Linked DNA regions of Homo sapiens: region 1 is linked to region 2. The links come from fine-mapping of genetic effects on gene expression. A gene starts in region 2. The other region holds a variant in brackets. All regions are shown on one strand. Distances are between the middles of the regions. Region 1 has its middle 7.0 kb from the start of RGS12. Region 2 holds the start of HGFAC (HGF activator).

The links. PIP is the estimated chance that this variant, and not a neighbour inherited with it, causes the effect. A credible set is the group of variants that fine-mapping cannot tell apart.
Region 1: its variant is the best candidate, but not a certain one, in a credible set for the expression of HGFAC in cerebellum (GTEx, PIP 0.57).

Annotation. Positions count from the first base shown.
Region 1 is chr4:3,283,826-3,288,199 of GRCh38, reverse strand. It overlaps a transcript of RGS12 not described here. Among named protein-coding and RNA genes, the nearest start is that of RGS12, 7.0 kb to the left of the region's middle. The variant G/C (reference allele first, on the strand shown) is at 2,468.
Region 2 is chr4:3,439,481-3,443,854 of GRCh38, reverse strand. HGFAC (HGF activator) reads right to left here and starts at 1,887. Exons shown (of 14, transcript NM_001528.4): 1 at 1,737-1,887; 2 at 943-1,123; 3 at 709-805; 4 at 435-514. The coding sequence starts at 1,853. RGS12 (regulator of G protein signaling 12) reads right to left here. Exons shown (of 18, transcript NM_001394154.1): 18 at 3,942-4,374. The coding sequence ends at 4,171. RefSeq lists a silencer at 308-357.

The DNA.
Region 1 (4,374 bases), 160 kb after region 2:
ACCCGCCGGGCCCATCACTCTTGGGGGTCTGCGCACACTCCCCATGCGGCAGTAGTTTATCTGCCATCGAATCCTTGTGTGCGCTCAGAGCAACGAGCACGCAGGCTCAGGGAGCTCAGGGCCAGCAGGTACGGGCCCACGGTGTCTCTCGACGGCTCGGCCATGGGAGGGGGAGGACCCAGAGGGACTCTGGCGCTGACGCTGGGAAGCAGGGCAGGGATGGAGCGAAGGGGCTGGCGTGCCCCCAAACAGAGCTAAGGGGACAGGTTTGTGTGGGGCCCGGTGAGTTTGGGGGAGATGTGGGAGCTGAGGGCCCCCACCCAGGCCCCGTGGGACAAATGAGCCTGCCAGCCCCTTGCCTGCACTCTGCCACATCTGAAATGCTCTGTCCCGGGACTACCTTCCAGGTGGGGCAGCCTCCTGTGCCCGTGTTGTGGAATTCACCATCAGTGAGCAGATGAAATAAATTAAATGAAGCATAATGTTTTTAACCAGAATACACAAAGTTAATTAAATAGAGCATATTGTTACTAAGTAGAGCTCATGGCAATTAGGGACGTTGTCACCAAATAAAATATGCATTAATTAAGTAGACCATATTATTCCTACACAGAACTTCCTCGGGCCGCCAGGGCCAGGGGCTGGGGAGGTCCCAAAGGCCAGCGGGCAGGGGCAGGTTCAGGAATCAGGAAGGGCTTGGCCACGTGTGTGGCGTGAACCCCTCCTGTGGGACCCGGCTTTGAAATGTCTCTTCTTGTCAAAGAACCGAAGCTTGGCAGCAACAGAGCTGCTCCAGCTGGAGGAATACCAATTTGGAGAAGATGTCCTTTTTTTGTTTTTTTTTTCAGACCATGTGATGTGCCTTGAGAAAATGTATGTTTAGGAGGGTGTTTTCCTTTACAGAAAATAAACGTGAAATAAATCAGAAAGCATCGCCTCAAAACAAGAAAATGACATCGGAAATGTTTTAAATGTTGCTCTTCGAGTCCACCTTGAACAATCACGCAAACGCCGCCCTCCCGGGGCTCTGCACAGCGTCGGGGCCTGGGCGCTGCTCGCTCTTCCGCTGTTCAGTGAGCAGGTAGCGCTCAGAGCTCACCTTTTCCCGGAGGATTATAAAAGAACTAGGTGCCCCTTTTTCTCTGTCTTCCTCAGTAACTCCCTAATATATGCCCAAAGCTGATGCTGGCCCCAACCCATTCACCCATCAAGTCCCAGATCACCATCATAGCCAGGTCCCCGAGGCCTCCCCAGCCCGAGGGAGCTCCCGGCCTGGGCGGAATTCCACTCAATCCTGCCGGAGCAGCGTCGGCTCCCGCAGGCACTGCTGACCGGGCTCCCATTCGGTGCCTAGCAGCGCACTAAGGGCCTGACGGGGGCTCTCTGACCCTCTCACAACCCTGCACATGCCCGTTTACAGATGCAGAAACTGAGGCCTGGGGAGACAAAGTGCTGGGAACACGTTCCCGCTGAGCCTTTCCCCGGTGTGCAGCGCTGGCCCCGCCTGGCTGCCACAGGCTGCCTTTCCTGCCCCTGACCCTCATTCCTCCTCACTCCCTCGCCCTGCATCCACCTGCGGGAGGGAGGAGAGCAAACCCCACACCGCAGCCCCCAGCACAGGCTTCCACCCCAGGAGGCCGGGGGAGCAGGGCCCACAGGGGCTGGCTTTAAACCAAGAATGGAGCTTGGATTAATATCTCAGGGTTAGGGTAATGGATTTGGACTGACTCTGAATTGAGACTGTATTTGCCAGTTGAGTGACAGAAGCTGCTTTTTATGTAGGAGCACACAGAAAATCCCCAGGCAGCCAGGAGCTTTCAGGGCCGGAGGAGGTTTGCCCACCGCATACGCAGTAATGGGGAACAGAAACCGGGCAGGCTGCATTTGGTGATCTCAGGAGAAAGGCTTCCTCAGTGTGTCGAAAGAAACCACACGCGGCCTGGGGCAGAAGACCTGCCCTTAGGGTGGCCGAGTGGCCTCTCCTGGCTCTAAGCATCAAAGGTCCTGCACCCCTGGAACCTCCTCGGTCCTAGGCAAAACAGACAGTTGGTGACCCTCCCTGTGGTGGCCTCACGAATAACCAGAAGGACATGCCAGGCTGGACGGAGGCACTGCCTTGCTCACCTCAGGCATCTGGGCTCCTCTCCACGTTCCCTGGGCTCCGTTCTTTTGGTGACGGCCCCAGCGGTCCCTGGAGCGCAGCCCGGCACACCGGCAGGAAGTGGTGAAGCCGTGGCTCCCTCCATCTGGGCTGGTGTTTGCAGGACATTTTCCTCACGGCGAAGCTGAGGGGTGACAAAGGAGTCTACGGAGCCCTGCCCCAGGCGCGGGCGCTCCCCAGGGCATGAGAACCCAGAGTCCCGCCCATGCACAACTCCTGTGCCAGGACACAGCCTGGTGGCTCTGACCAGCCAGTCGACAGAAGTCTGCTCTGGAAGGGGACTGGGGTGGGGGCAGAGGGGATGAG[G/C]AGGAGCCGGGAGGCACCACCTCGAGCTCACCCCCAACGGTGACAGTGGGGCTGGGGCTTGTTCCGGGGCGGGGCAGCCCGCCGGACCCAGCCCGAGAGGTTAAGCGCGCGGCTCGGGTCCTGGAGGCCACCACGTGGCCTGCGTCCTTGGGCCCTGGGAGCTTCCAGGGCTGAGGAGGCCACGGACACAGGACTTACAGGACAAAGGGAGGTGTAGCAGAGCGCTGGGCACCAGTCCCCCTTCCTTCCAGGCCCCCGTGCTCCCAGAGGCCCAGCCACGCCACCCTGGCACACCCTTTGTCCCTCACATTGCTCTGGTCACTTCAGTCATGACCCCCAAAACAGGCCTCTGCTGGAGCCGTAGCACTTGCTATGAATAGAGAGCGGGAGCTGAAGGAATGGTTTCCGCACGCTGCCTGAGCGGCCGCCTCGGTCTCCCCTTACTGCAGCCAGCCCGCAGGTCCGGATTCCCTGCCTCTGCTGTCCCACCATCCAGACAAGACCCACCAGCTGGGCCACCTGTCAAGTCCTCAGTGGGGGCCACTTTTCTGCAAATGCCCCAAGAATGCTATGGGGCTCTCCGTATCAGTGCTGTCCAGAGAAACAGAATCCAGTAGGGTGTGCAGATAGACAGAGATGCAGAAAGAGAGGAAGGGGAGAGACTGATTTTAAGAAATTGATGCATGGGCTGGTGGGGGCCGGCAGGTCTGCATTCTACAGGGAGGCGCTGGCTGGCTGGAGACCTGGGGAGGAGCTGCCGCCGCCCCTCAAGTCCAGAGCACCGTGCTGGCAGCCTTCCCTCCTCCTTGGGAGCCTTTTTCCTCTCAAGCCCTTCAACTGCTCAGATGAGGCCCACCCACACCGTGGAAGGTCATTGGCCTCACGTGCAGTTCCCTGACTTAAATGTTAACCTTATCTAAAAAATACCTTCACGGTGACATCTAGACTGGCATTCGACCAAACACTGAGCACCGTGGCCTGGCTGCTACCTCTGCCTCCCACTGGATAGTCCTTTTTTTTTTTTTTTTTTTTTTTTGAGATAGGGTCTTGCCCTGTTGCCCAGGCTAGAGTGTAGCAGTGGGATCACAGCTCACTGCAGCCTCAACTTCCCAGACTCAAGCCATCCTCCTACCTCAGCCTCCTGAGTGTTGAGATTACAGGCATGCACCACCGTGCCGGCCCTCACTGAATGCTTTTTTTTTTTTTTTTTAGATGGAGTTTCGCTCTGTTGCCCAGCCTGCAGTGTAGTGGCGTAATCTCGGCTCACCGCAACCTCTGCCTCCCAGGTTCAAGTGATTCTCCTGCCTCAGCCTCCCAAATAGCTGGGACTACAGGCACCTGCCACCATGCTCGGCTAATTTTTGTGATTTTCAGTAGAGAGGGGTTTCACCATGTTGGCCAGGCTGATCTTGAACTCCTAGCCTCAGCCTCCCAAAGCGCTGGGATTACAGGCATGAGCCATGCGCCCCGCCGGATGTTTCTTAATGTCGCCCAGCGGGGCGGTGGGGTAGTTTAGGGAGCAGCTGAGCAGCCAGCACACACAGATTCACCCCCACACCCGCCCTTCAGCCCTCCCCTCCAGGGCATCCTGCTGGCGCTTCCCATTGGCCAGGGTGAGCTGGGCTTCAGCCAGCCCAGCAGATTGCTCATGCCGCCCCTGGGGCTCAAGCCAACAACCCAATTCCCAAACCCAGGTGGATGCCATCAGCCAGTGCAGTCCCGTACGGCTTCCTGCTTAGCCTGGCACTCCTGGAACCCCATTCCACCTGTGTCCCCAAACGCCTGCTCCTACAGATTGTTGACCTTGGCCCAGAGCAACCTTTCGCCTCTCTGTCCAGATTACGCTGGGATGCAGCAAATCCCAACGGGCAGGGGGTGGGAGGTGAAGTCTTTGAAAACAAGGGAAG
Region 2 (4,374 bases):
CGTCCCCCACTCAACACCTGGGCCACTGGCCCAGCTGTGCACGTGGCTTCCTGGAAGCCTGACACCCACACTGTCAGGCAGCAGACCCCTCCCATGTGTCCCAGGACCCATGTGAGCAGGGCGGCTGGCACCGCACCCCACAGACCCTGCCCACCTGTCCCCTGCCTGGGGCACGCCTGTGTGGCTGCAGGGCCCGGCCTCACCACCAGGCGGCGCCTTGGCCCCAGCGATGGCCGCGCAGCCACCATGAGACGCAGGTCCCACCTGGGAGAGGCTCTGGCCCTAAGTGGCACCCACCGGGGTTAATCCCAGAGCTCCTCTTCTGCTCCCCTCCAGCCAGGACCCCTGCCCGGGTCCGCCCCATCCTCCCCTTGGCCCTTCTGGCCTGGCCCAGTGCCCCCTGCCCGCCCCAGGCTACCCAACCCAGCACCCACCTGGGCCCCCTGGAGGCGGGGTGGCCTCCACACAGTAGCCCCAGGCCCTGTCCCGGTCGTAGTTGTGAGTTGTGGCACACCTGGGGGGCGACACCTGCGTGCATGGGGGTCCCAGGCAGAGGCCCCCCACCCCACCCCACCACCCTGGAGGGTCTCTGGGTTCACTGGGTCCGCCTGCTGCGTGGTGAGCGCCTACTGTGTGCCCGGCTCCCAGAAAAGCAGGCAGCGTGGGGCAGGTGACCCCAGCTCGGGTGCCCCGGCTGCCCGGACCCACCACTTCCTGTGTGCACTGCCCTCCGAAGTGCAGGCATGCAGCATGCGGCCCCCGTAGCGGAAGGGGAACCTGCAGGGCCTCCCGTCCTCGGTGAGTGCTGTGGGGAGGGGGTGGCAGGGTCAGGGCTCCCTCGAGGGGCACCCGAGCCCCTCAGGACCTCCAGCCGCAGCCATGCTCCTCCCACCCAGCCCTAAGGTGAAGCACGACACCTCCTCCCAGGCCCACCTGACCCACCTTGGGCCTGGGGGCTACTGCTCGAGGGAACTGCCCTGGGCGGGGGCGGGAGCCCCCCACTTTGGGGTCCCTCTGCCTCTGGAGCACTTGTTGCTGGGGTCTCAGAGGTCACAGAGGTCACCAGGATAGTGGGGATCGCAGGGGTCGCTGTGGCATTAGGTTCTGGGGACTCCGTACGGTTCTAGGAGGAGCAGAAAGGGTGTCAGTGTGGGACAGACCCTCACACTCAGGTCCTGCCGGGCAGGAGGTCACAGCCCTGAGCCTGTTTCCATACTGGGGCCCCCAGATCTCGGAGCAGGTTCCAGGAGGACACACGACATTCCTGAGGCCTCAGCCAGGCCCTGACACCTTCCCCGCCCTCGGCCCCTAGTTAACACCTGCTCAGGGTCACTGCCCAGGCCCAGGCACTGCTACCCACCAAGCTTAAACCCTGACGTCAGTTTTTGGTGATGGGAGCAGCTAGGAGGCCCTGGGAGGTTCCCCCAACCTCACGCATCCAGACCCAACAGAGGTCCAGAGAGAGGGGGCAGCCCCCAGACCCATAGGGGCCCAGGCCAGGCCGCACAGGGATGACAGCCCCCAGGTGGGGCTCCGTGAGCCCAGGCCCCAGCCTCCAAGGCCAGTCCAGCACCCACCTGCCCTGTGAGGGCCAGCTTTCAACGTAAGCCCCCTGCTCGGACCCCCGCCCCCTCAAATCCCCACGCTCTGTGGCGACCCTCCCTCTGGCCTCCTCCCAAGGACCCCAAGTAGCCACTGGGAACCTCTGGTCGCACTGCGACAAGGTCAGTGCTCACCCCGCCAGGCTGGGGCTGGAACCCCCGTGGCAGCAGCAGCAGCAGCAGGAGGAGGAGGAGGAAGGGGCCCAGCCCCGGTGGGGGCCAGGGGCTGGGGACCCAGGCCCAGCGCCCCATGGCTCCTGAGCTGGCCTGAGGGGCAGTGGGAGGCGGGAGCAGAGCGGCCAAGGCAGGTGGGGTCAAGGCTTCGTGGAAATGATTAACCCTGGCTGCCTCCCACGTCAGGCGGGCCCAGCCGGAGAGGAAGTCCCCGAGTCCCCTGGCCCCCACACCTGCTGCCCACCTCACTTTGACCCTACCTGGAAGCCCAGCTGTCTCTCTGGCCTCGGCCTGCACTGGTCCTAGTCCTAGACCTGACATGGTCCTTGGGCCTCAGCTTAGAAGCCTCCTCCAGGAAGTCTTCCAGGATAATGCAGATAGGTTGGGGCCTAGATGGTCTGGCGCCGCTCCCAGTCCCTGCAGGCCACAGAGCTGGCCACCATCTGCCTGTGAATTGTCCATGATGAGAGCCACTACGGGCGCTGGGCCTTGGAGGTGTCCAGCTCTGTGCCCAGCACAGCACAGACAGTAGCAGTGGGGATGGGATTGTCCCTGTCCCACAGACGGCAGCACTGGGGGCTCCTGGAGGGTTCGGTGCTGCATCCTCTCGGTGGCCCCAGGGCTGGCCAAAAGGCCAGGCACAGGGAGGAGAGGGGCCACGCAATGGCTGAGTGTAGCATAGGATGACCTGAGATCCTGCCCCACCTGCCTGTTCTGACTCTGGGGGTGGCCAGGGCCCCCCAGCAGCCCCTGGTGATGTTCAGAGTGTCCCTTCCTCCCCGTCTCCCAGACAGACCCAGGAGTCCACTCCAAGAAGCCTTTCCAACCCCAGCTCCCCACCGCCGCCTGGATGGTACAGGCCAAGTCTGCGGCAGCACAACCCTGGGCCAGGTACCCTGGGGCCTGGGATGGAGCTGGAGTCACGGAATTCGTGACTTGGGGCTGTGGGCAGAGCTGCCTGAGGAACCTCTTCTGCAATATTGGAGCAGCCGCTACGGCACCTCGGGTTCCTCCTGAGTCAGCAGCGACATCCCAGGGCTGCCGAGGTGGGAGGAGGGGTGAGTGAACCACTGTGGCCTGGAGACCAGCGAGGGCTGAAGCTGCCTCCCTGTATCCCCTAAAACCCCTCTCTCTGCCCCCCATTTGCCTGTCTGTGCAGAGGGAGAGAGAATGGACACCCACTGACCACCCAGCTTGACACCGTGGGCCCCAGGGGGCACAGTGCACATGGAGGCGTGGTGGGCCCTGGGGGCACGGTGAATGGGGGGTTGGGGGTTGGGGGGGAGGTCATGGTGGGCCCTGGGGCACGGTGAATGGGGGGTTGGGGGTTGGGGGGGAGGTCATGGTGGGCCCTGGGGGCACGGTGAATGTGGAGGCATGGTGGGTGCTGGGGGCACGGTGAATGGGGGGTTGGGGGTTGGGGGGGAGGTCATGGTGGGCCCTGGGGGCACGGTGAATGTGGAGGCATGGTGGGTGCTGGGAGCAGGATGGATGCGGGCTTGTGGTGGGTGGTACACACAGCTGGCACTGGGCTTCATCTTCCATTCCGACCCCTCCCCCAGCCCCCTTCCTAGAGCACCACTAAGTGGGGTGCATCCACTCCCTGGAAGCTTCTAGAACAGCCCCAGGGGACTGGCTGTGCTCTCGGGCCTCTAGGATGGTCTGAGGAGCTCACCAACCACCCTGTACCGAGGGTACTTGGCTTTAGGGGTTCCATCAAGGCAACCTGGGGAATGGCCCTGCCTCTTCCGACTCAACCCAGCCCCCAAGGCCCCGGCCTCCCCTGCAGCCACACCTGGTTCCCTTTCTGTAATCAGACCCTCCTTAGCCCCAGGGCCTTGGCACAGGCCCAGGGCTCTTTCTAGACTTCCTCTGCCGTCCAGTTGCAGTTTACATGGTCCCTCCCCAGAAAGGCCCTCAGACCACCCTGCTAAACAAGGCTGGGGCAGGGTCCCCACGTGACGGCGAGAGCCAGTCTCTGCCATCTGGTCCTGGCCCTCAGGCCCCAGGAGCCAAGCTTCCCTCTCCTCAAAGCCCCCTTGACCTTACCCTGGGGCACTTCTCCTCCTCAGGCCCCTCTGTTTCCTGCATGACCTCCTGGGGATGTGCTCGGAGTCCCCGAGAACGAGGAGTCTGTGTCCCCAGCACCCAGCACCAGGCCGACGCTTGGGTCCTCAGAAATGCTTTATTGGGCAGCAGGAGGCCAGGGCCAGGGAGCCCCATGGCCAGCATGGCGAATGTCCGGGGCCAGTGCCTCCAGCGAGGTCACCCCCTGCCCTCCTGGCTGGGCTCCTGAGGGTGTGGTGGCCAGGGTGGCCCCCCTGAGGCCCACAGAATCCACCTGGGCTGCCCCACCCCGACATGTCCACAGGAGAGTTGGCCAGGCCAGGGCAGCTCAGACGAAGGTGGCGTGGTGAGCGCTGGTCTTGGGCTTAGCAGGCTCACCCGGGACGGGGCCCAAGCCAGGGAGGTCTGATGTAGGAGGCCCACCACTGGCCTGCGACCTCCCAGGGCCAGCCTGTGCCCCCGCTATGCCACCATCCCGCCCGGGCGCCGAGCCAGTTACAAGATCCACATCGATGATTCTGTTGACTGGGAG